Linked DNA regions of Homo sapiens. The protein of the gene in region 1 interacts with the protein of each later gene in a biochemical or structural test. Each region holds a gene or a part of one and is shown in the gene's direction. Other genes may lie near its edges. The genes, in order: COL3A1 and PDGFA.

Evidence for each region.
Region 2: the proteins of COL3A1 (region 1) and PDGFA form a complex in vitro, tested with the Homo sapiens proteins (one study listed by BioGRID).

Annotation. Positions count from the first base shown.
Region 1 is NC_000002.12:188,990,650-188,998,405, forward strand, and holds part of COL3A1 (collagen alpha-1(III) chain preproprotein), read left to right. Parts: intron 1-354; coding exon 355-408; intron 409-837; coding exon 838-882; intron 883-1,019; coding exon 1,020-1,073; intron 1,074-1,534; coding exon 1,535-1,579; intron 1,580-2,237; coding exon 2,238-2,291; intron 2,292-2,711; coding exon 2,712-2,810; intron 2,811-3,388; coding exon 3,389-3,433; intron 3,434-3,584; coding exon 3,585-3,683; intron 3,684-3,891; coding exon 3,892-3,945; intron 3,946-4,074; coding exon 4,075-4,182; intron 4,183-4,396; coding exon 4,397-4,450; intron 4,451-4,980; exon of another isoform or gene 4,981-5,042; coding exon 5,043-5,141; intron 5,142-5,475; coding exon 5,476-5,529; intron 5,530-5,748; coding exon 5,749-5,847; intron 5,848-6,515; coding exon 6,516-6,569; intron 6,570-6,686; coding exon 6,687-6,740; intron 6,741-7,050; coding exon 7,051-7,104; intron 7,105-7,616; coding exon 7,617-7,670; intron 7,671-7,756. UniProt on the Homo sapiens protein: Collagen type III occurs in most soft connective tissues along with type I collagen. Involved in regulation of cortical development.
Region 2 is NC_000007.14:491,750-507,374, reverse strand, and holds the end of PDGFA (platelet-derived growth factor subunit A isoform 2 preproprotein), read left to right. Parts: intron 1-6,132; coding exon 6,133-6,259; intron 6,260-6,875; coding exon of another isoform or gene 6,876-6,931; exon of another isoform or gene 6,932-6,944; intron 6,945-8,800; coding exon 8,801-8,811; 3' UTR 8,812-10,117; downstream 10,118-15,625.

The DNA of each region.
Region 1 (7,756 bases):
TTTATAGATTGAGTTGAACAACTTTATTCTATGCAAAATATTTCGTACATTCAACCAACTGTGCCTACAACCTATCAACTGAATTATAATAAAATCTATGAAACTCATGTTTGCTACTCTATAGTTAAGGCAACTTTCTTATCAGACTAAATTGCACTTTCTAGTTTTCATGTTTTCCTGTTGTAAAATCAGTATGAAATATCTTCAACCCCTTTAAACAAGTTTTAAATTATTTAAGCTAATTTTGCAAGTAGTGTTATGAAGACCAATTAGAAAAATACCATGTAAACTTTATCAATCATTCTAGATTATTAACAGATTTTAATAATTTTGCTGGTTTTATACATTTCCTAGGGCTTCGATGGACGAAATGGAGAAAAGGGTGAAACAGGTGCTCCTGGATTAAAGGTAAATCACAACAAAAATCATATTTTCATAAGTAAATTCATTAAATATTAAAGCTACATATAAGATTCATATTGTGAGCCTTAACTTGTTTTCTGAAATTTACCTGAATTTTACCTATTAGGTGTGAATAATGGTAACCAATTCAGATATTCTATTAACGCTTCCATGAAAAATGACAACTTGAAGAGTCTAGATTAGAAATAGTTGAGCATCTTAGTATAACTTATCAATTACTTCACTTTAGTCTTTAAGTTTTTAAATACAGAAATTGAGATTTCTGGTAAATAAAATACTAACAGAAAATTAATATTGTTAAAATGTATATCTTTTTCTAGGCTCTATAAACTTTTCCATAATATTCTGTATTTAAAAATATATAATATTTTCTTCCTCTTTTGTAAAATAGTAACATATTTTATATGTATCTAGGGTGAAAATGGTCTTCCAGGCGAAAATGGAGCTCCTGGACCCATGGTAATTATGTTTCTTATGTATAATTTTCAGTTTTATTATTAACCTCATTGTTACCTAAAACTGGCTTTGCTCCCACCCCAACTGTTCTTACACATGTCAAGATTAGAGTAAAACCATATTTCAATTTTACTCTGTAGGGTCCAAGAGGGGCTCCTGGTGAGCGAGGACGGCCAGGACTTCCTGGGGCTGCAGTGAGTATAGCTGCTAACATCACACAATTACAACCCAAAGTGACAGATTTTTACAGCCTCAGTAAAGTTTCAGGCTGTAAAAATATGTTAGGAAAAAGACCTTCCTACAAAATTATACTCAATGATACTGTGATAAAGTTTTGGCTATAGTTAAAAGGAAATGAATAATTGTTTTACAATTATTATCTCTATTGAGAATTTTTGTGTTAACTTTTCATATGTCATTTGAGCCATTATATCTGCATTCAGTCCTGAAAACACAGACTCCAATCCTTCTACATTTGATTGTTGCTGTATATATCAGAATTGTAATAATTGACTTTAAAATACATAATTATTAAGCAGATTTTAATGTACTTGAAGAAAACTCAACTCACTTGAGTCAGAATTTTGGTCAAAATATTACTCATGACCAGCCATTCAGAATTAAAAGGATATTTGATGTAAACTTCTCTTTTTAGGGTGCTCGGGGTAATGACGGTGCTCGAGGCAGTGATGGTCAACCAGTAAGTAACTTTCTATCTCTTATGTGTTGTAGGGTAATGAGAAGTTATGGATTGTGGATTATTTAATATTTTATATATGTATATACTCTTAGGTATATATATATGCATATGTATATCTCTAATATACACATTAGCATCTCTGTTGACCATTTTTACAATTTAAAAAGTGAAAAAATATTGTAGCCCCAATACTTAATATTGTATATACACTCCTGTGATTAAAACTGACACTGAGCCCATAAACAAAATCTAGGTTCTGACACTCATTCTGCTTGATCAACTGCTAACATTTGAATGGTGCTCCCAATGTTAGTTAATATCCTATGTAAGACATGGCACTTTAAAGAGTCCTACAAAATGGATAAAATAGATGTTACCTCCATTTTGTAGACTGGAGTACAAAAGCCCAGGGAAAAGTAGCCTGCACTAAGTCACAGAATTCATGGCAAAGTAGGGAGAAACCAAGAATTTCTAACTTTAGATTTCACTCTTTTCTTATTTTACCACATTGTTTCTCTACATAATATCCATAAAATATGAATATCATTTTTATCTGCATAAATATCTTCTTTACTTTATATGTGCTCACTTATTTACTAGTATGTCAGCTTTCATTTAGTTGAAAAAGAGCTCTTGAAATTGTATTTAATTTTTTCAGGGCCCTCCTGGTCCTCCTGGAACTGCCGGATTCCCTGGATCCCCTGGTGCTAAGGTAAACATGTGTTTCTATAGAAGGGTATAAAAATATCTTGGAGGCAAGAGAAAAGCATTAGATTGCTTCTTGCAACTGATTTTTTTAATCAGTCAAATGGATAGCTTTTATCTATACATGTCTTTAAAGCCCTATTCTTGATTCTAAAAGAGGTGTTGTCCCTAGTATTCAACTATCTTGATATTTCTTCTGCTACCTTCTTTTTTTCCCCAGACTCTTTCTAGGAAACTGATAATGCAATCACACACACATAGTTACATTTTTCTCTGCCTTTACGATTAATGATTCCTTGCTTTACCTGCAGTATAGAGTCCCACTACTCCAACTTTTGGGAGATGTGTTTAAACAGGACTGAAGGGTGAAGTGGCTAAGTGAGTAGAAGTGGTAAGAGAAACTGACTACACAAGGTTTTACCATTAGGGTGAAGTTGGACCTGCAGGGTCTCCTGGTTCAAATGGTGCCCCTGGACAAAGAGGAGAACCTGGACCTCAGGGACACGCTGGTGCTCAAGGTCCTCCTGTAAGTATCATAGTTGAGAGGGAGTAAGCATAGTTTCATGCTTACTCCATGAAAGCATAGTTTCATGCTTACTCCATGAAAGCATGTGCTTCAATATGGCTATCAGTGAAAATTACTTTGAAAAAATTGTTGCTTAGTGCTCTAAAATGATCCTCCTGTGACACATACTGATTTGATTAGTAGTAAAAATGATAGTTTTTGACTGTTGCACTATTCCAGAATTCATGATTTTTTATGTTTATATAAAAGAATAGAGGATAGACTAGTTTTCTGATGCTTTCAAGAATGTGCCCCAAGCTAATCACCAATCATAAAAATTCAGAGAAGAACCAAATTCAAAATCTCTTCTATTTATGTATCATTTAATAATTTATACGAAGTACATATTATCTCTAATTTATTTAGATAATGATGATTCTTTTGACCACATTTCATATGTTGTGTTATAGTTGGAGGATTCACTTAATCTCTACAAAGCATAACACTCATCGATACATTTATTTTCACACAAACAACTTCAAATATATACGAACTATTTGCATTACTATTAATACATTATCTGTTTTTTGTATACTTAGGGCCCTCCTGGGATTAATGGTAGTCCTGGTGGTAAAGGCGAAATGGTAAGCTGTCCCCACTCCTCAGCCTTATCTCATCCACACATTACTGGCTTCTTTTGCATTTTGCATGACAATAGATTTGTGATATTTAAGTGAGATATTCATAAAAGAACATTCAAGTTCGGCTAATATAGTGTCTTTGGTTTGTTCTTAGGGTCCCGCTGGCATTCCTGGAGCTCCTGGACTGATGGGAGCCCGGGGTCCTCCAGGACCAGCCGGTGCTAATGGTGCTCCTGGACTGCGAGGTGGTGCAGTAAGTTGCCTTGTTTTTTCTCTGTTGACTGAAAGGTATAGTTTAATTCCATCAACAAAAAATTAATAGCAAAATTTTGCTCCTGTTCAGTTGAATTTATATTGACTTCACTCTTGTCTTATAACTTATAACTGAATTATGTGTTACTGGTGATGATTTGTTAGTCGAATCCTCCCTGTGTTTCAACCAAGACTTTGTTATACTTTAGGGTGAGCCTGGTAAGAATGGTGCCAAAGGAGAGCCCGGACCACGTGGTGAACGCGTAAGTTTTACTGCAACAGATCTGGTTATTTCTTGAAAAAATGCAACATAATTAGAAAGTAAACAGGTAAAAACTTTGAACTAAATTCAGTCATAATTTCTTTATTTTACCATCTTTTTTTTTTTTCAGGGTGAGGCTGGTATTCCAGGTGTTCCAGGAGCTAAAGGCGAAGATGGCAAGGATGGATCACCTGGAGAACCTGGTGCAAATGGGCTTCCAGGAGCTGCAGGAGAAAGGGTACGTTTTCCATGGGGCATCTAAAAGAAAAGCAGCATCACTGTCATCTAAATAAAACTACCTTCAGGGTGAGACAGCCAATTTTTCTTAAGTTGAGTGTTCAGTGAAAATATTGTTTAAAGCATTCTATGACATAAAAATATTTGCCACTCAAGAATTATGAAAAAGAATTGAAATCCTTTGGACTGAAATACTTGTCTTTCATTATTTTCAGGGTGCCCCTGGGTTCCGAGGACCTGCTGGACCAAATGGCATCCCAGGAGAAAAGGTAGATAACTTTAGTTTCTATGTTCCTAAATGCTAGCACCACAAATGGGCAGTTCTTGTATACAATTTCTCATTCATGAAAACCTAAATATCTGAAGAATATATATTAGAGTTAAGAAAAATTCCTAATATAATGCATCCTCTGTTCAACAACTTTCCTGGCTTTGTAACTAAAGCCACTTACTTACCCTCTATGAGAATCCTTTACTTATCTGTTAATTGGAAAGCATTTATCTGAGCATCGTTGCAAGAGTACAGTAAACTAAAATGCCTGAAAAGTCTTTGAAAACTCTAAGGTTACATCAAATATGATTTCATAGCATTAAGATATTTGATTTTAGCTGCACATAATTATATTTTTAAGCACAGTGAATACTGTTTTATTAAGCATGTGATGTTCACAAAGTTGCTTTAAAATTTTTTCAATATGGCAATCCAAGCTAAGATAACTGATTTTATGTATAAATGTTTCAGCAACACACGAACCCTTTTTAAAAGTTCAAATGACGTCCTCTCTTTGTAACCAAAATATTGTTGCTATCTAGGTTAGTGAAGGCTATTTTAATTTTTTTAAAATTTCTTTCACTACTTAGGGTCCTGCTGGAGAGCGTGGTGCTCCAGGCCCTGCAGGGCCCAGAGGAGCTGCTGGAGAACCTGGCAGAGATGGCGTCCCTGGAGGTCCAGGAATGAGGGTACAGAGAAACATTTGTTTGAATGACACTTTAATTTAGACAGAAGAAAGGCAAGACAAATGAAGACAGATCAAAAGCAACTTAAATCAATCAGATTACATATTTTGTAAGGCACCAAACAAAACAAAATTCTTTTAAGTAAACTTAAGCCGAGATAGTTCAAGGAGAAGAGAAGATAGAACACTTGCCTTAGATACTTTATAGACAGGAAAAAAGATGTGCAAATCTGAGGCTTCACATGTAAGTGAAAATATCAAAATCATACAAATAGTGTATGTAGTAATTTTTTATTATTTCATTTTAAATCACCTAACAACTGACTTCTTTACTTCAGGGCATGCCCGGAAGTCCAGGAGGACCAGGAAGTGATGGGAAACCAGGGCCTCCCGTATGTACATTTTTAAAATCTCATTTTAAAAGGCCAGTTAAAATGGAATGTATATGTTGGCCTATCCTTGAGTGTGTGTGTGTGTGTGTGTGTATATATATATATGTATATGTATATCTATATATATACACACACACACACACACACACATACTATATATATAGCATGCTTTAATCTTCTCTTTATCAAACCTTTATTAATGTAATTTTTTCTTATTAGGGAAGTCAAGGAGAAAGTGGTCGACCAGGTCCTCCTGGGCCATCTGGTCCCCGAGGTCAGCCTGGTGTCATGGGCTTCCCCGGTCCTAAAGGAAATGATGTGAGTTCCTTCATTAATTTCTTCAATAAATATTTGACTGGAAGGCTTTTATTTTCCATATGGAGTAAAGAAATGGTCAAAACTCAGTCTCCTCTTCAAAGCATGGAGGAGTATATGAAAATCAAATTGCATGTAGGAAGGGAGCTAAATATATAATTGGTTATGGTTGTATGTGTGTGTATGGAGCAGGCAGATAAAAAATATGAAACAGGCTGGGTGCGCTGGCTCACGCCTGTAATCCCAGCACTCTGGGAGGCCAAGGCAGGCAGATCACCTGAGGTCAGGAGTTCTAGGCCAGCCTTGCCAACATGGTGAAACCCTGTCTCCACTAAAAATACAAAAATTAGCCAGGCATGGTGGCATGTGCCTGTAATCCTAGCTACCCAGGAGGCTGAGGCAAGAGAATCACTAGAACCCGGGGGGCAGAGGCTACAGTGAGCCAAGATTGCGCCACTGCACTCCAGCCTGGGCGACAGAGCAAGACTCAGTCTCAAAAATATGTATGTGTGTGTGTGTATATATATATATGAGACATATATATATGAGACATATATATATGAGACATATATATATGAGACATATATATATGAGACATATATATATGAGACAATAATATGATTAGTTATTGCCCTTTGAGGATTAGTAAATACCGACCACTTCTTCTTTAGGGTGCTCCTGGTAAGAATGGAGAACGAGGTGGCCCTGGAGGACCTGGCCCTCAGGTACGTAGCTTTCCTCAATTTATTTCTAGCCTTCTAATAGATGCGTTCATCTCCAACCTTCTGACTTCTCTCTGTAATCTGTATTATTTCTACTTCCCTAACTGTTCTTGTTTTTAGGGTCCTCCTGGAAAGAATGGTGAAACTGGACCTCAGGGACCCCCAGGGCCTACTGTAAGTTCACTCATATAAAATTGGAGATGAAAATAGGGTGGAGGTGGGGCAGGAAGAATGCTTCAAAAATTACATAATCTCTGACACCATGTTGTTACAGTTTACCAAAGCAATGATGAAACTTGCTGACCTAGTTATCTAGCTAAATGCTAGCATTGAGTTTAGAGTGTACATGTGTGCTTTGGGTCCAGGTCCTCCCTTTTCTTCACATCACTACTTTTATAATTAAGCAACAGGCCTGTTGAAATGGATACTGTAGACTAAATATAAAAGGATGTTTACAACAGAGTGTATCATTATACTTTTCTAGGGGCCTGGTGGTGACAAAGGAGACACAGGACCCCCTGGTCCACAAGGATTACAAGTAAGAACTTGTTATTTAAATGTCACGGCATATCTGACTGTCAAATTTTTTTGTGTCCCTAATAGATTATAATTTATCTGAAGCTTAACTTGTGATTCTGTCTTTCATCTGGAAATAAAATTTTAGGCAATGTTAATAGGTAGGCATATCTTCCATGTCCGTTCCAGAGCACATTAATAAGTTATTTAAAAGAATTAATGAAACTCAAATAATTCTATTTGGTTACACTTATTTTTATTATAACATAAATCCATATAGCCAAGTCTATCCTGCCATGCTGGTCAATACATTTTTACGTGTAGCAATTGAAAGAACAGAGAGAGATGAAAATGGGTTTGTAAAATATGATTATCACGTATGTGTCACTGGATTTTGAGTGGCACAACGTTTCTACCCCTACAAGACCACTGGAACTTTTTTTTAATATCTTGCAGAAACATGTGTACATATGAGAAGCTTTTCTATAAGCCATGTTTGAGGTAATTACCTAATACAAATATGATTCTTTCTAGGGCTTGCCTGGTACAGGTGGTCCTCCAGGAGAAAATGGAAAACCTGGGGAACCAGTAAGTTACGTTTCATTATTCAAAACTCAGAAACAAAAAGAATACACACTGTTTGTTTGTCAACTATTAACTTCTTAATTTTCTTA
Region 2 (15,625 bases), on another chromosome or scaffold:
TAGAGCCAGGACCAGGGCTCTCCCTCTGGGTCTCATCTGCCGGGACAGGGTGTCCTAAGGCCTCAGGGCTGTGTCCTGCAGCAGAGCCTGGCGGCCCAGTTCCCACCTCCTCAGACCCAGGCCCCCTTCATGTTCCCGCTTCTGGGAGGCGTCTTCTCCCTGCCCACCCATCCGAGGGTTGGAGGAAAACATCCGGCTTTGGACCCAGGGGGCTTTGGCTGAGGGGACAAAGGTCAGAGGGAACAGGAGGCCCATTTTGGAGGCTCAGCCAAGAGACCGGTCCTGCCGCTGCGGATGGAGGCGGCTGTCAACCTGGCGAGGAGATGGGCCCCAGAGCCTCAGACTCTGTGCCTGTGAGTGGGCATGGATGGGGTCAGCTGAGGTCAAAGGGGTTGGGGCTGGCCGGGAGGGGCCCCCAAAGTCTGTCCACCCAGGATGGGCATGGCATCCCCCATTTCCAGTTTTTATGCCTTTCCGGTCAACATTCAGAGGTCTCTTGTTAGAAGATGGATGGTAGTGAAGCTGGGAGTGTCACTGCCTGGCACAGACCCTGCTGGGATCACCAGGATGTGACTGACCGGCAGCCCTGGGGGAGTGACTGGCCGGGGTCCCTAGCTGGGTGGGTGTTTCCTTGCACTCTGCCTGGCACAGTTAGCTCTTGGTGCCTGGACGCCCGACTCTCCCCCAGACCCAAGCCTCGGGGGTAGGACAGGAGTGTGGGCCTGAACGTGGACCATGGGGATGAGATGCCAGCCCGAGGACTGCAGGGGTCTAGCCTGGACGGAGCTGGCTCTGAGCCCACCTTGCTGTGCTGGAGGCTTCCAGAAGGTGTGTGCTCACCTGGTGCTTGGGATGGGCCTCTGCTCCCTGGAACAGAGTGGCTGGGGTGTTACGGGTGAGAAGCTCCCAGCCACGACTCTGTCCACTCTCTGGGGTCTGGTGCAGGAGTCTCTAGGTGGGCGGAGTGGAGGTCCTCTTGAGCCAGGCTGGGCAGGGGCCTCTTACACGAGCTTGAGGTCTGGGCATTGCTTCCATTCTTAATGGATATGGGGGCAGTGCTGAAGGAGGCAGGATCTTCTTTTTTTTTCTTTGTTATAAAGACAGGGTCTTGCTTTGTTGGCCAGGCTGGTGTCAAATTCCTGGGATCACAGGTATGAACCTCCTCCACGCCCGACTTGAGGGATTTTTTTTTTTTTTTTGAGACAGAGTCTCACTCTGTTGCCCAGGCTGGAGTGCAGTGGCCCGATATCAGCTCACTGCAACCTCCACCTCCCGGGTTCAGGCAATTCTTCTGCCTTAGCCTCTCGAGTAGCTGGGATTACAGACACTCACCACCACGCCTGGCTATTTTTTGTATTTTTTTAGTAGAGATGAGGTTTCGCCATATTGGTCAGGCTGGTCTTGAACTCCTGACCTCAGGTGATCTGCCCGCCTCGACCTCCCAAAGTGCTGGGATTACAGGCGTGAGCCACCGCACCCAGCTGGGGTCCTCATGACCCAAGTCAGCATCTGGATTGAGTGACATTCCAAGTCTCTGTCGAGAGACACCCAGGTGGGGCTGTGGGGCGGTGGGGCCAGGGCTCTGGACTCTAGGCTTTCTTTCCGTGAAAGAGGTGAGAAGGAGTGCAGGCTAGGGATGGAGATTCAACGCTGTGTGACTCTGGGCAAGGGGCTTCCCTTGTCTGTGCTGTGTGTTCTCATCTCTAGAATGGACCACGATGGTGTCCTCACAGGGTAGCTGTGAGGGTTACAGTGACGGGCACGTGCGGTCCAGTCAGGTGTCTTTCATGGCTAATACTCTGTCTTGGAGCCTTGAAAGGGTCAGGCCGTAACCTGGAGTTGGGGTGGGGTCCCCCGCAGGGAGTGGCTGTCCCAAGCCCTCCTCAGGGGGTCTCTGCAGCTTCTGGGCTTTGTAGCAGTAGGGACTCGGCATCCCAGGTCTAGAGGGGTGACGGCATCCCTGGGTTGTAGTCTTGGGTGAGTTCGCGCCGGGAGTGTTGAGGTGGGGCGGCTTACGACGCAGATGAACTCAGCCGTGGGGAATCGGAATGTCTGGTGTGATAAGGTGCAGCCCACATCTCTGGGACGGAAAAAGGGGAGGGACATGGGGACCCCCCCCATCACTTGGGCTTCGGCTTGGGGCCTGGGGGCCGGGGTACCCCCCGTGGGGGTCCTGAGGACATTGTAGTCTGTTCTTTGGACTTGGCCTTCTTTTATGGAGGAGGTTTTTGTGAGAATCCAATATTCATTTTGTGTTCTTGGGAGAAAAATGTAGCTATTTCCTGGCCAGACAGAGGTGGCGGAACGGCCCGGAATCCTGGCATACTCAGAAACAGGTGCAATCATCGCTGTTTGTTTTTGTTTGATAAAAACGGGCTTGTCTGAGGAGGCAGTGGGTTCCCAGACGAGCGGCCGTGCCATGTGCCTTTCGCACGGTGCCCAGAGGGGTGGCATTTCTGTTGTGTCCTGGGAGCCCACGCGCCCGCGGTGGCCGGCCATCTCGAGTGGTTGAGAGCGAGCCTGCCCCTCGCCTGGGCGTCTGGTGTCTGGCCAGACGGGCCTGCGGTCTCTGCCGAGCCAGGCCCTGGTATCTGCCCTGCCGAGGGAACTAGGTGAGGCTGCTTGTTGACCAAAGAGGCTGTGCCATCCGGAGGGTCAGGGCCGGGAGCAGAACAGGGCGCCCTGCCCGAGCCCATCCCCACGAACCCAGATTTCAGAGCCCACCTGCCCCATGCCTCACTTGGCCACCCCTGCAGAGGCTGGGGGTGGGTGGGAGCAGCAGAGTATGGGTGCTTCGAGCCTGGGAGATGGCAGGGTGTGAGGCTGGTGCTGTTCCTCCTGCTGGGACCTGTGTCCAGGGCCTCCAGGGGAGGGGAGGAAGGAACTCGGTCCCTGCTGAGGCAGGAGGGGGCTGGGCCTGGTTTTGCGCACTGGGATCCCTAGTTACTTACTACCTGGGCAGTTCTTGACTCAGGGAGGGCTGAGGACATGCTTGCAGGGCTGGGGGTGGCTGAGGTCCCAGGTGGCCCTGCTGCTCCTCTTGGGGCTTTGCTGCAGTTCATCCTCGGGCCGGGCCTCTCCGACCCCAGGCCCTCAACAGGAGGGTGGCTCTAGACCCACTCTCTGCCTGTGGTGGGTGGGTGGTGGTACTGTGCTGAGCTTGGGGACCAGGGGGTGGGTTGGTTTTGGGGCTCTGGATTAGAATCCACGCCAGTGGCAGCCCACTCTTGAAGGCTGGCTTTGTCCTCGTTTCTGGGGCCTTCTGCATGTGCAGCCTCATTTATTCCTCAACTCCTGGGTGGGTGTGATTGGTCTCCGTTTTACAGATGGGAGGTGGAAGTGTGTGCACGGCCTGCGGAGGCCTCTCTCTGGAGGATTCTGTCCTGGGGAAAGGGGCAGATTGCCGCGGGAGTGTGGAGGCTGATCTGAGGCCTCCCGAGTGGAACGGAGCCCCATGTAGGAAGCGGCAGTGTCCTGGCCGCTTTCTCTCACGCTTTGTGACGTAGCGAAACCTCCCAGGCCAGGTCCTGTTTCTGAGCTGGCTCCTGACCCCAGGCGCCCCACGCCCTGCAACTGTTGAGCTCATACTTGGCTGTCTGCTCACGCCCCAGGCAGCCCAGACCACTTCACACGCCTGCAGGCACCCTTTGCACTGTGGGTTAACCATTAACTCAGCCTCGGACAAGCCTGGTCCCCAGCGCCTTAGGGACCGGCTTACCTTCGGAGCCTGCCTGGTCCCAGGGTGCAGAGCTGACCTTCTCCCTGGGGGCCCTGCTGATGCCCAGTCTCCAGAGTCTGGAGTCCCCCCTTCCCCCCAAGAAGGTTGGGAAACATTCCCCTCCTCCCTCCTTCACCCTCCTGACTGCCTGGGAGGCAGGGCCACTGGGCTGGGGGCATCTGGCCTTGGGCTGAGGTCTCCTCATTCACCCAGCAGCGTGCATTCCCCCACGCCCCTGTGCTCAGGGGGTGACCCGGCCTCCGTTTCCTTTCTAGCCTCAGTTTCCCCATGAACCGTGAGGGGTGAAGTGGGTGATCCATAGTGGCTGTTCTTGCATTTAGACCCTGCATGCGGCAGGGCTGGTTCCGTGGGCACAGATGGAGCGCCTGCTGGGTGCTCAGCTCCCCAGGGCCTGGGAGGGCAGGAAGGTGGTGGCTATTCCCTGGTGTGTGCTCCAGGGGGCAGGTGGGACAGCCTAGCAATTAGGGACAGGCTTAGTTAGAGCTTGCCTGCGCCTCAGTTTGTTCTGTAAATGGAGGTGCCAGTCTTGCCTCCTTGTAGCATGGTTGGGAGGATGAAATGAGTGCTGGGGTTTGGGCTGGGAGAGCCAATACTCTACTCATGCAGTCCCTGGCTGTGTATTAGGGGTCTGTTGATGCCAGGCGTGTGCGTGCTTGCACTCTGTGTGTGTAGTAAGATTCCCACGATGGGGCCCCTGTGTACATTACACATGCATGACTGGTGGGGGGTGGAGTTGCCTCCCCATGACAGGGTATGTGTGTGCATTATACAGGTGTGTGTGTGGGGTGGAGTTGTGTTCCCGTGACAGGGCCTATATGTGCATTATGTGTGTGTGTGTGTGTGTGTGTGTGTGTGTGTGTGTGTGTGATTTCTTGCCTCTCTTGTTGAATGCCTGAAGCTCCCCTCTCTGGCCTGGACTGGGCCATTGTCTGCCTGCAGCTCCCCGGGGAAGGGGCTGTGGAGGCAGGACCCCCATGTTGTGGTTTTGTGCCTGGAGAATTGAGGGCAGGCGTGGCTCGCAGACAGGCAAAGTCCAGTCCGAAGAGGGGAACCCAGCTGAGGTCTGGTTCGCTTTTGAGCTGCCTGTGCCTGATAGCCACGGCCTGCTGGCCTGTGCTCCTCCTGGATCATCTTGTGTAGCCTCGGTGATGGCCCAGGATCCCTGGCCCTGGTTTCCGAGGTCAGGCCTCTCCGAGCCCAAGGAGAGCCTCGGACCTGGGGGAGCCATGAGGGGACCCTGGGTATGGGTCTGCTGGCCCTGCTGCCTGGGGCCGGCGGGGAGGTGGGGCCCTCATCAGGCCAGCAGCTGGGATTATCATCTGGACGCTCAAGTCCACAGCAACCTTGGGCTAGGATACAGCCACGAACCCCCCATTCCTAGGCCATGGCTTTAAATTTTTTTTTAATATTAATAGAGACAGGGTCTTGGTGTATTGCCCAGGCTGGAGTGCAGTGGTGTGATACCAGCTCACTGCAGCCTCAAACTCCTGGGCTCAAGCGATCCTCCTACCTCAGCCTCCCAAGTAGGCTGGGACTACAGGTGCCACCATGGCTTGCTAATTTTTAAATTGTTTTTAGAGGCAGGGTCTTACTATGTTGCCCAGGCTGGTCTTGAACCCCTGGAGTTAAGTGATCCTCCCGCCTTGGCCTTCCAAAGTGCTGGGATTACAGGCGTGAGCCACCATGCTCAGCCTGGCTTTTAAAATGTATTTAAAAACAACGTGATCATTTGAAAACATTTCCCAGCTGCACATCCACACACAAGCAAACACTTTCCCTGGCCACCTGCACCCCAGAACTCCCAAACTTCCACACCTTAGCAGTGTGCATCCTTCAGCCCCCCCAGGCACACGTGAACCTTTGGGTTTATTTTAAACAAAAATAGGATGAGTCTGCTAAATACCATGCTCCAACACCAGGCGCGGCGGCTCTCACTTGAAGTTCCAGCACTTTGGGAGGCTGAGGCAGGAGGATCACTTGAGTCCAGGAGTTCAACATCAACCTCGGCAACATAGCGAGATCTCATCTCTTCCACACAAAAAAAATATTTAAAATTAGCTGGGCATGGTGGCCTGTGCTTACAGGTGGGAGGCTGAGGTGGAAGGATCACTTGAGCCCAAGAGCTTGAGGCTGCAGAGGCTATGATTGGCCTAGGTGACAGGGTGAGACCCTACTCAGAAAAAACTAAAACACACACACACAAAACTGCACTGCAGCTTGTAGGTTTTTCACCTGGTACTGCTACACTCCCCACCACAAGGTAGTGTTTCTGGGAGGAGGTCAGGGGTCAGGCTGCTCTCTCCTCCCTCTCAGCCTGTCCCCGGCTCCCAGCACGTCGTGATGTCCGAAGCTCCATGCAGGCATTCATGGCCGGGCTCTGTTCTCTCTGGCAGGTGGCCAAGGTGGAATACGTCAGGAAGAAGCCAAAATTAAAAGAAGTCCAGGTGAGGTTAGAGGAGCATTTGGAGTGCGCCTGCGCGACCACAAGCCTGAATCCGGATTATCGGGAAGAGGACACGGGTGAGTGGCTGCCTTCGTCGGCATCGGTGTTGGAGAACAGGTCTTCAGAGCCTTGCTTTTGGGGTGTTAGGTGGCCCCCTTGAGCGCAACGCTTACTGCTGTGAGCATCTGGGCTGCTGTTGAAGGATTCGTTGCCCTGCTCCCGGGCCAGATGCCTGCGGGGGAGACGGATCCCACACCTGCAGGTGTCCGGTGGGGAGGGTGGCCCAAGCTGCGGCACTGGCAGGAGAGGAGATTCAGGTCTCACTGAGAGGGGCTGGGAGTGCATAAGACACCCAATTCATTAGTGGGCTGCGGGGCTGAGCTGAGAAGAATCTGCAGAAGGGCCTCCTGCCAGGGTGGGCGGGAGGAGCAGGTTCGAGGACTGCAGTTGCCCTGGCTGGCTGGGGTCTCTCCTTCACCCCGCCACGCGGACTCCACCCAGGAGCAGAATGGCTTCTGTGCCCTGCTATGGCTGGGCCCTGGGAGCATGAGGGGACTCAGAAGTTTCTCGGTGCCAGGGTGCTGGCCTTCTCTTCTGGAAAGATAAACAAATGCCGTAGGTATTTGTTGCTTCAGTTCTTCACCCCGACGGCCGTCCCTCGGCCCACTCACCGCCCTGCCCTTTTGTTAACAGGAAGGCCTAGGGAGTCAGGTAAAAAACGGAAAAGAAAAAGGTTAAAACCCACCTAAAGCAGCCAACCAGGTAGGACTGTCTGCCGGACACACTGAGTCCTGCAGGGCGGGGAGGTGCAACTGACTGATCACACCAGCAAATCACGCTTCCTGTCTCGCCGGGTGCGGCGGGGATGTGGCCCTGATTGGCCTTGATGGTGTCTGCTGGGCTTGGGTCTCCTTGCTCCCCGTCCGCTCCTGCCTCGCAGAACGCCCTGGCCCGTGGCTCACTCCCGCTTGGGAGCCTGCCTCCAGCTTTGTCCTTCTCTTTGTCGTTGATTGGGGATGCAGGAGCATTGCACATGAATGGAACAGGTTGGGCGACCTGAGCAGCGGTGGGGCAGCTCTGAGCGCCTGGCCACTCTGGGATCACCCACCCCATTTGACAGATGAAAAAACTGAGGCTTAACTGAGATTACAGATAAGGACTGTTGGAGGCTGAATATATCTGGAAATCCTTTATAAACGTGCAGGGCTGTTGGCTACTGTGTTGGAAATTGCATTTGGCTGCTAGTAACACCAGACAGCACAGGGATTGAGATAAGATCGAGCTTCATGACTTTCATCTAAGGGTGGGATTGCAGAGCAGGGAGGGTAGTCTTGAGGTATCATCAGTGTCCGCCTTCTGTCTGGCTAGTGGCATCCATCTGCAGTTGCCTCATGGCCCAAGGTGGCTGCTAAAGCTCCAGAAACCACATCTGTGCTCCAGGCTGGAAGAAGGAGTGAGCGGGGGGGGGGGGGAAGGGCAAAATAACACCCTTAGAGAGCTATCCTGGAAATCCCACCCAGTGACTTTTGTGTTTTTCTCAGCTGCCATCCCTCCACTGCAAGGGAGCTTGGGAAATGTCTCCTAGCAAGACATGTCGCTTCCCAGATGGAGGTGGGACCTGGGCAGCCGCCATCATCACGGAGGAGGCAGTTTCAAGCCTTCCTGGTCCTTGGCATTGGCCCGTCTGGCTTGGGAAAGTTGGAGCCCTGTCTGGCCTGGTTCCCCCTCCTGGCACGTGGGACTCCATGGTGGCCAAAACAAATAGTTTCTTTAGAAGAGAGGAGGATCTCAGAGATAGGGTGTCTGAGAACCCTGGCTCCTGTTTGCAATGTGGGACTTGGGCCTGCGGGTGAGGTCCATTCATGAGGAGCCTCTTGGGAGGAAATTGTCCACTTGGGCGGGTCTTTGAAGCAGTCCAGGACTGTTGGTCAGCCTTGGCTTTGTTTGCTGAAAGTGTGGCCTGGTGGGTGGTTTTGTGCCTGCCTGTGGGTCCCATTTCTACAGAGCGTTAGGCTCTGGCCTCCATGGGCCTGCTGGTGACAGACCCCATGGTGAGAGGCTGGCACTCCTGTTGTCCCATGCCTGGCTGGTACTCATGTTCAGCCTATAGGCAGCCCACGTGTTGGAGTGTGCGATGGAGAGGCCACATGGGATGTGGAAGAATTGTTCTTAAACGATCAGCATAGGTCTGCCTGGGTGCAGACTCTTCTGTCTGGCTGGTGGCCTCCATCCTCAGGGTTGTCTCATGGCCCAAGGTGGCTGCCAGAGCTCCAGAAATCACATCTAAGCCCTAGGCTGGAAGAAAGGAAGGCAGAGAGAAGGGCAAATGAGCCATTCTTGGCCTCAGTTTCCCCCATCTGTACAATGGGAGAATGGGGCTTGGTCTCTAGACATGTTCTGTGAGATGCTGTGAGCCTAATCCCAATTCCTGTCAGGGTACTGCAACATGGCCAATGTGGCAAATGTGATTCTGGAAATTTCTTGAAAACTTGAAATCCCTGTGTGCCCCTGATTGGGTTAAATGTTTTCACCCTGTTTTCCTCCTATGCAGCCATGTGTGTGCTGGGTGGTTCACTTGGTCGGTGGTCTCAGTGTCTGTCTTTCCCTTCTCCCTGCAGATGTGAGGTGAGGATGAGCCGCAGCCCTTTCCTGGGACATGGATGTACATGGCGTGTTACATTCCTGAACCTACTATGTACGGTGCTTTATTGCCAGTGTGCGGTCTTTGTTCTCCTCCGTGAAAAACTGTGTCCGAGAACACTCGGGAGAACAAAGAGACAGTGCACATTTGTTTAATGTGACATCAAAGCAAGTATTGTAGCACTCGGTGAAGCAGTAAGAAGCTTCCTTGTCAAAAAGAGAGAGAGAGAAAGAGAGAGAGAAAACAAAACCACAAATGACAAAAACAAAACGGACTCACAAAAATATCTAAACTCGATGAGATGGAGGGTCGCCCCGTGGGATGGAAGTGCAGAGGTCTCAGCAGACTGGATTTCTGTCCGGGTGGTCACAGGTGCTTTTTTGCCGAGGATGCAGAGCCTGCTTTGGGAACGACTCCAGAGGGGTGCTGGTGGGCTCTGCAGGGGCCCGCAGGAAGCAGGAATGTCTTGGAAACCGCCACGCGAACTTTAGAAACCACACCTCCTCGCTGTAGTATTTAAGCCCATACAGAAACCTTCCTGAGAGCCTTAAGTGGTTTTTTTTTTTGTTTTTGTTTTGTTTTTTTTTTTTTTGTTTTTTTTTTTTTTTTTTTACACCATAAAGTGATTATTAAGCTTTCCTTTTTACTCTTTGGCTAGCTTTTTTTTTTTTTTTTTTTTTTTAATTATCTCTTGGATGACATTTACACCGATAACACACAGGCTGCTGTAACTGTCAGGACAGTGCGACGGTATTTTTCCTAGCAAGATGCAAACTAATGAGATGTATTAAAATAAACATGGTATACCTACCTATGCATCATTTCCTAAATGTTTCTGGCTTTGTGTTTCTCCCTTACCCTGCTTTATTTGTTAATTTAAGCCATTTTGAAAGAACTATGCGTCAACCAATCGTACGCCGTCCCTGCGGCACCTGCCCCAGAGCCCGTTTGTGGCTGAGTGACAACTTGTTCCCCGCAGTGCACACCTAGAATGCTGTGTTCCCACGCGGCACGTGAGATGCATTGCCGCTTCTGTCTGTGTTGTTGGTGTGCCCTGGTGCCGTGGTGGCGGTCACTCCCTCTGCTGCCAGTGTTTGGACAGAACCCAAATTCTTTATTTTTGGTAAGATATTGTGCTTTACCTGTATTAACAGAAATGTGTGTGTGTGGTTTGTTTTTTTGTAAAGGTGAAGTTTGTATGTTTACCTAATATTACCTGTTTTGTATACCTGAGAGCCTGCTATGTTCTTTTTTTGTTGATCCAAAATTAAAAAAAAAAATACCACCAACAAAACCCGTGGACGTGAGAAGCGTTTTGTGGTACGTTTTTCTAGCACTGAGTCTAGACCCTGGTTGCCAGGTCATGCGGTGCTGTGTTGGGTGGAAACGGAGGTCAGAGCTTTCTGGGTGGGGTCCCTGGACCTGCCTCCATGGTGGCACCCGTGGGATGCCTGCCTACCTCGGACTTCAGCACCTATGGGGGTTAGGCCGAGGACATCCTCCTGCAGGCTCCACTCCCTGGAGCGGATGAGGAGTGTCAGAGTAGCCAGAAGACCATGAAGAGTTTCATCCAAGAAGGGAGCCCACCTGTCTTGGTGTGTCCATGTGCAGCACTCACCATACCCTGCCCGGGCTGGCCCCTCCACCACCTCCAGGCCCACGAGACAAACCATCGAGGTTGCTTTCAATCTTGACCCCGCGTTCTTCGAGGACCATCTGTGGACTGGCGGCCGGCTGGCGTCTGTTGTCCATGTGCTGCTGGAAGGTTCTTACGAAGGATTATCTTCAACAGCTCATCTTCATGGTGCTGTTTTCAGCCTCGTCAGGGCAGCCTGGAGGCTGGAGGGGAAGTGCAGGGCCAGGTGGTTGCAAGCTGGTTCCTGTTCCTTGGACACCTGCTGGGGCCCTGCCTGGGCCTGTGGGCTGCTGTCCAGATCTGCACCGGTTACAGCGCCTTGCCCAGGAATGTGCATTGGATGTGACGTGTGGCAATGTAACATGTATTTGTTTCCATGAGATGCTGGCGACAATGCTCCATTTTTCTTTTTTGTATAAAGTCGTCTGGTGTAATACCGTGTCCATTAAAGTGATGGGGCAGAAAAGCCAGGTGGGGAAGAGAGAATTCCATAAGAATTCCATAGGTCTGGAGCCCAGGGGTGGCTGAGGTAGCAGTAGAGGTGGGAACTCAGGCCTGCTTTCTCTCCCTACTTACTCCTTCCCTCCCTCACTCCCTCCTTTTCTCCCTCATTGGTTCATCCATGCAGGCGAGGGCCCTAGTGCCAGCCCCTCCTGTCCCGACATGGGGAGAGCCCTGGGGAGGGGCAGGCAGAGTGGAGGCCACTCCAGCCAGGAAGGGCTGCAGTGTGGCGGGGGCTGTGGTCTGAGGCTGGATCCTTTCCGAGCCTCTCCACCCACGTGGGCCTGCAGCCTTTGTCGCGGCTCTGCCCTGCGTTCCCGGGATTTCTGCTCCTGCCTGGGCCCCCTCCCGGCCCCTAGCCCTGGGCTGCACCTGGATCTGGGCTCAGGAAGGTGACTTTCTGCCCAGGGTCAGCTCTTCATGTCTTGTGAGCCCTGTGACCTTGACCGAGGGGCCTCCATCTGCATGTCGGCGTGCACATCTGTGAAACGGAGCTGCAGCTCAGGCAGGGTAAGGACGCCTCGCCATTGACTCACCTGGTGCAGGTCTTGTCTGCTGCCTCCTCCTGCTGGGACTTCACTCCAGCCTCTAGTGTTTCTAGGCCCCAGCATGGCAGAGGACAGAGCCCTTGGGCTCAGGGATTGCTGAGCGGCGATGGTGCCGCCTGTTAAAACGAGGTTCCTGCACCTGCCTGGACACCTGAATGCACCTGCTCACACCGTGCCCTTGCCAGGGGTCATGAGAGCTGGGGCCCAGCCTTTGCTGGGCTTCTCCTTTAGCTTGGGGGTGTTTCCTTTTCTTCACCCAGGCCTCTGTGTCCTGGCTGTGGAGGGGGTTGGAACTGGCTGGGAGAGTCAGTGACGGCAGGTGGTCTCCAGCCGTGGGTCCCTACAGCTGTCTTGGGATTCCCAGCGGTAGGTGAAGCCGAGGCCTGGGTCTTTGCCTGGGTCCAGTGCGCAGAGCAGTTGCTGGGCTGGGCCAGGCTCGGGGATCCCGTTCTGCAGAGAAGCCCTTCTGGTTTGTGCCCTCTTGTCAAGCACAAGAAGCCACGGCCCTCCTGGGACCTCCTTGGTTTTTTTGGGCTTTTCATACTTAGCCATGGGTTCCTCCAAGAATTCTAGGGGTGGGAACTTGAGGGCTTGGCTCCCATTTTAAAGATGAGTGAGCTGTGCCCCTGGCAGGCCCGGAACGCCTAGGGGGCCCCAAGTAGAAGGGTCGCAGGACACAGAGAGGCAGGACTTGTGCTGTGGCCGGGCATCCAGGGGCCCTTCCATCTCCTGGGCCTTGACTCTGCCCCACCCCAGGGGTGGGCTGGGCCCCAGACTCCGGAGCAGCATTGGGGCGGGAGCTCCCCAAGTGCCTGCAAACAGCAGGGCCAGCCAGGCTCTTCTGGGGTTGTGTCCTGGGCAGGTGCCCAGCCTGGGACTGAAGCTCCTTGCCCTGCACCTATCACCAAAGGGCCAAGATTCACAGAGATTTGCCTCTGCATGCTCCCTGGAAATGGGGTCAGCAAGGACCAAGATACAGACCCCAGGGAAGATGGCGACCTCCAGGTCCAAAAGGAAGAGCAGGTATTTGAACTCAAGTAGCAAAAATCACAGAATTTCCTGCACCCCACAGACCCCCGTTCCCTCACAGAAGCCCCCCATCCTCTCACAGAACCCTGGTCCCCTCGTAGATCCCCTGTCCCCTGACAGATCCCCTGTCCTCTCACAGATTCCCCCGTCCCCTCACAGATCCCCTGTCCTCCTCACAGATCCCCCATCCCCCTCACGGATCCCCCGTCCCCCTCACAGATCCCCCGTCCCCTCACGGATCCCCTCCATCCCCCTCACGGATTCCCCCGTCCCCTCTGTACAGCCGTTTCCAGGAAGTCCTGGTCCTGAGGTCCCCGGGTTTCCGGGATGGGCAGGAGGAGGGGACACAGGCCCAGTCCTGAGAACGGGGACCCCAGGCTCCCGATACGTGGACGCGGCCCGGGGCCAAGGCTGGACCGGAAGTGGCAGGTTCCCGCCGCCTGTGGGTTCCGCCGCTTCCCGGGGCGCCCGGCGAGGGTGACAGACCCCGGGAGCGCTGTGACCGCCACCCGTGCCCAGCGATGAAGCTGAAGGTGGCCTCCTCCGTTTGCAGGGAGAATTTTGGTTCCAGGCTCCGGCGCCCCGGGGGCGGGCGGGCTAGGAGGGTCGGTGCGGGCGAAGGAGGCCTGGCCCTTGCGGCTCCCGTGCCGGGGACCCTGGAGGTGGGCGCGCCTCGGCCCCCAGCCCCAGCGGCCGACGCCGGGCTCCTCCCACGGCCCAGCCAGCGCCTCACAGTCCGGTGGCCCTGCCCCTGCGGCCACGCTGGCCGGCTCCTGACGCCTCAGAGCCTCAGTTTCCCCCCTAGCCGTCGGGAGGCGGGTGCGCCGCAGGATGAACCCGTGAGTGGCGCTGAGCAGGGTGGGCGGCGGCTGTGGCAGCCCGGGAGGACGTGGGTCCCCAGAGCGCCGAGGCGGGAGGAGAGTCCCGAAGAGCATCCGCGAGGGGTCGCCAGCCGGGGAGAGTGGTGGGGCCTCTGAGCCGGGAGGGGGCCGAAGCGTCTCCCACGACCTCGGCGCGGTGCCTGGTCTCCGCGGGGTCCGGCTTCCCGGTGCCCCCTTACCCTGCGCTTCTCCAAGCTGACAGCCCCAGGTGTGGGGCCTGGGGTGGGGCCTGGCATGGCCTCGTGCCTCCTACTCTTAGGTCCAGGGGTGCCATGAACCACCCCCCAGCCCTGCCGCGGGATCGTCCCCCAGTGTCCAGGGGACCCGCCTGCCTCGCCCAGCCTTTCTTTTCTTTTCTTTTTTGAGACGCAGTCTGGCTCTGTCGTCCAGGCTGCAGTGCCGTGACACGATCTCTGCTCACTGCAACCTCCGTCTTTCGGGATCAAGTGATTCTTCTGCCTCAGCCTCCCGAGTAGCTGGGACTACAGGCACTTGCCACCACGCCGGGCTAATTTTTTTGTATTTTTAGTAGAGACAGGGTTTCACCATGTTGGCCAGGCTGGTCTCCAACTCCTGGCCTCTGGCGATCCTCCCGTCTCGGCCCCTCAAGGTGCTGGAATGAGAGGTGTGAGCCACCGCGCCAGGCCCCACCTTTCACTTTGGCTCCATCCGGAGTCCTGGGATCCGCTGGGTCTGAGTCCCATGTACCGTTTCTGTTGTGGGATAGATTTCCATCAGAAGCACAAGACAGAAAATGGGGGAGGACGGGGTTTCCCGAGGAAATCGGGGTGCCGTTCATAGATGAGGCTACTAAGTGGGATGTTGGGGGTTGCCTTGGCCTGGGTGCCCCAGAGGCAGAACCTGAAGGACAGAGTTGTGGGCATATGGTTTACGGGAGGGCAGATACCAGCAATACAGGGAGGGGCTGGGGTGTGAAATGTTCAAGTGGGAGACCTCACTGAATCAGCTCCGGGCTCCAAATCCTGAGACCTGGAGCCTGCACACATGAATGCCGGGAGGTTCCAGGATCCCCCCAGAGGCTTGGAGAAGGCCTGGGCAGGAAGCCAGGTGGCAGCAGCAGGAGCTGAGCAGAGGTGGGCAGGAGGATACATGCAGCCCGAGGGCAGATCCCGTGTATGCATGGCCCCAACTGCTCCGGGTCCTGCACCAGCCTCCCCATGGCTGGCTGCTTCTCACCTGGACAACCTTGTCGCCCACCCATCTGCGTGCCATCTTCAGCCACCTGCTCTCCCAAGAGCAGCCAGGGTTATCTTCTCCAAACCCAAGGCCACCTTGCTCTCCCCACCCCTCCTAGAGCCCCTGCTGCTCTGTAGGCTTAGAACAAAGTTGAGAAGCTTCCAGGGCTCCGGGCCCTGTCTGACCCTGACTGTCCCAGTCACACCCTGGCCCCTGTCTGCCACCTCATGACCTCAGCTGAGCTGGCTTTGTCGTGGCACAGGGGAACCGGAGCAGGGGGGCTGCCCAGGCTGAAGGAACGGGGTTGAAGCGCAGGACTTTTCTGATGGGGCGGCAGCTGGGAAAACGGAGTGAGTGGCCGGGGAGGGCTGTTTATGGGATGGCCGTCTGCAGGGCCTTGGCAACCAGAGCCCCCCGTCCAGACCTCCAAGCTTGCCTGGTGACAGGGCCCGGTGTGAGCTGGACCACAGGTACTTGGTAGGCCTGGTCTGGGTTGGGGTCAGGGAGTCAGAGTGCTTGGGAGACAGGTGCCCCCTCCCAGGTTCGGCCAAGCATGGGGTGAGAGTACTGGGCTCTGCTGGGCTCTGCCCAGCTGTTTGATGTTGGATGACCTCACTGTGACCTTGGGCTGCACCACTGCCCTGGTTGGAAGAGAGGGAGGCTCGGTGGGATGGGCTGAGCTCCAGGACCGCCAACCCTTACCCCCCTTTGCCCACCTGTGAGTGGCTTCCCTGATGGAAAGACTGAGTGAGAGGACTCCTTAGTGGCCGGCCCTTGTAGAGGCACAGAGCTGCAGGAGCTGTGGTGAGGGCCGGCACCATGAGACCTCTAGACCCCAGGCTCTTGAAGCGTCCCTGCCTGCCCTCCCTGAAGGACTTCCCAGGCCACCTTGCCCTGCCCAGCGCTGGGGGCTGAGTCCTTTCTGGGCACACCAGGTCACTTGGCAGAGTCCCTGGCCCCGAGCGGGCACTGAAGGAGGCCCTCGCACTTCTGGGGGCCCTGGGTCTTCG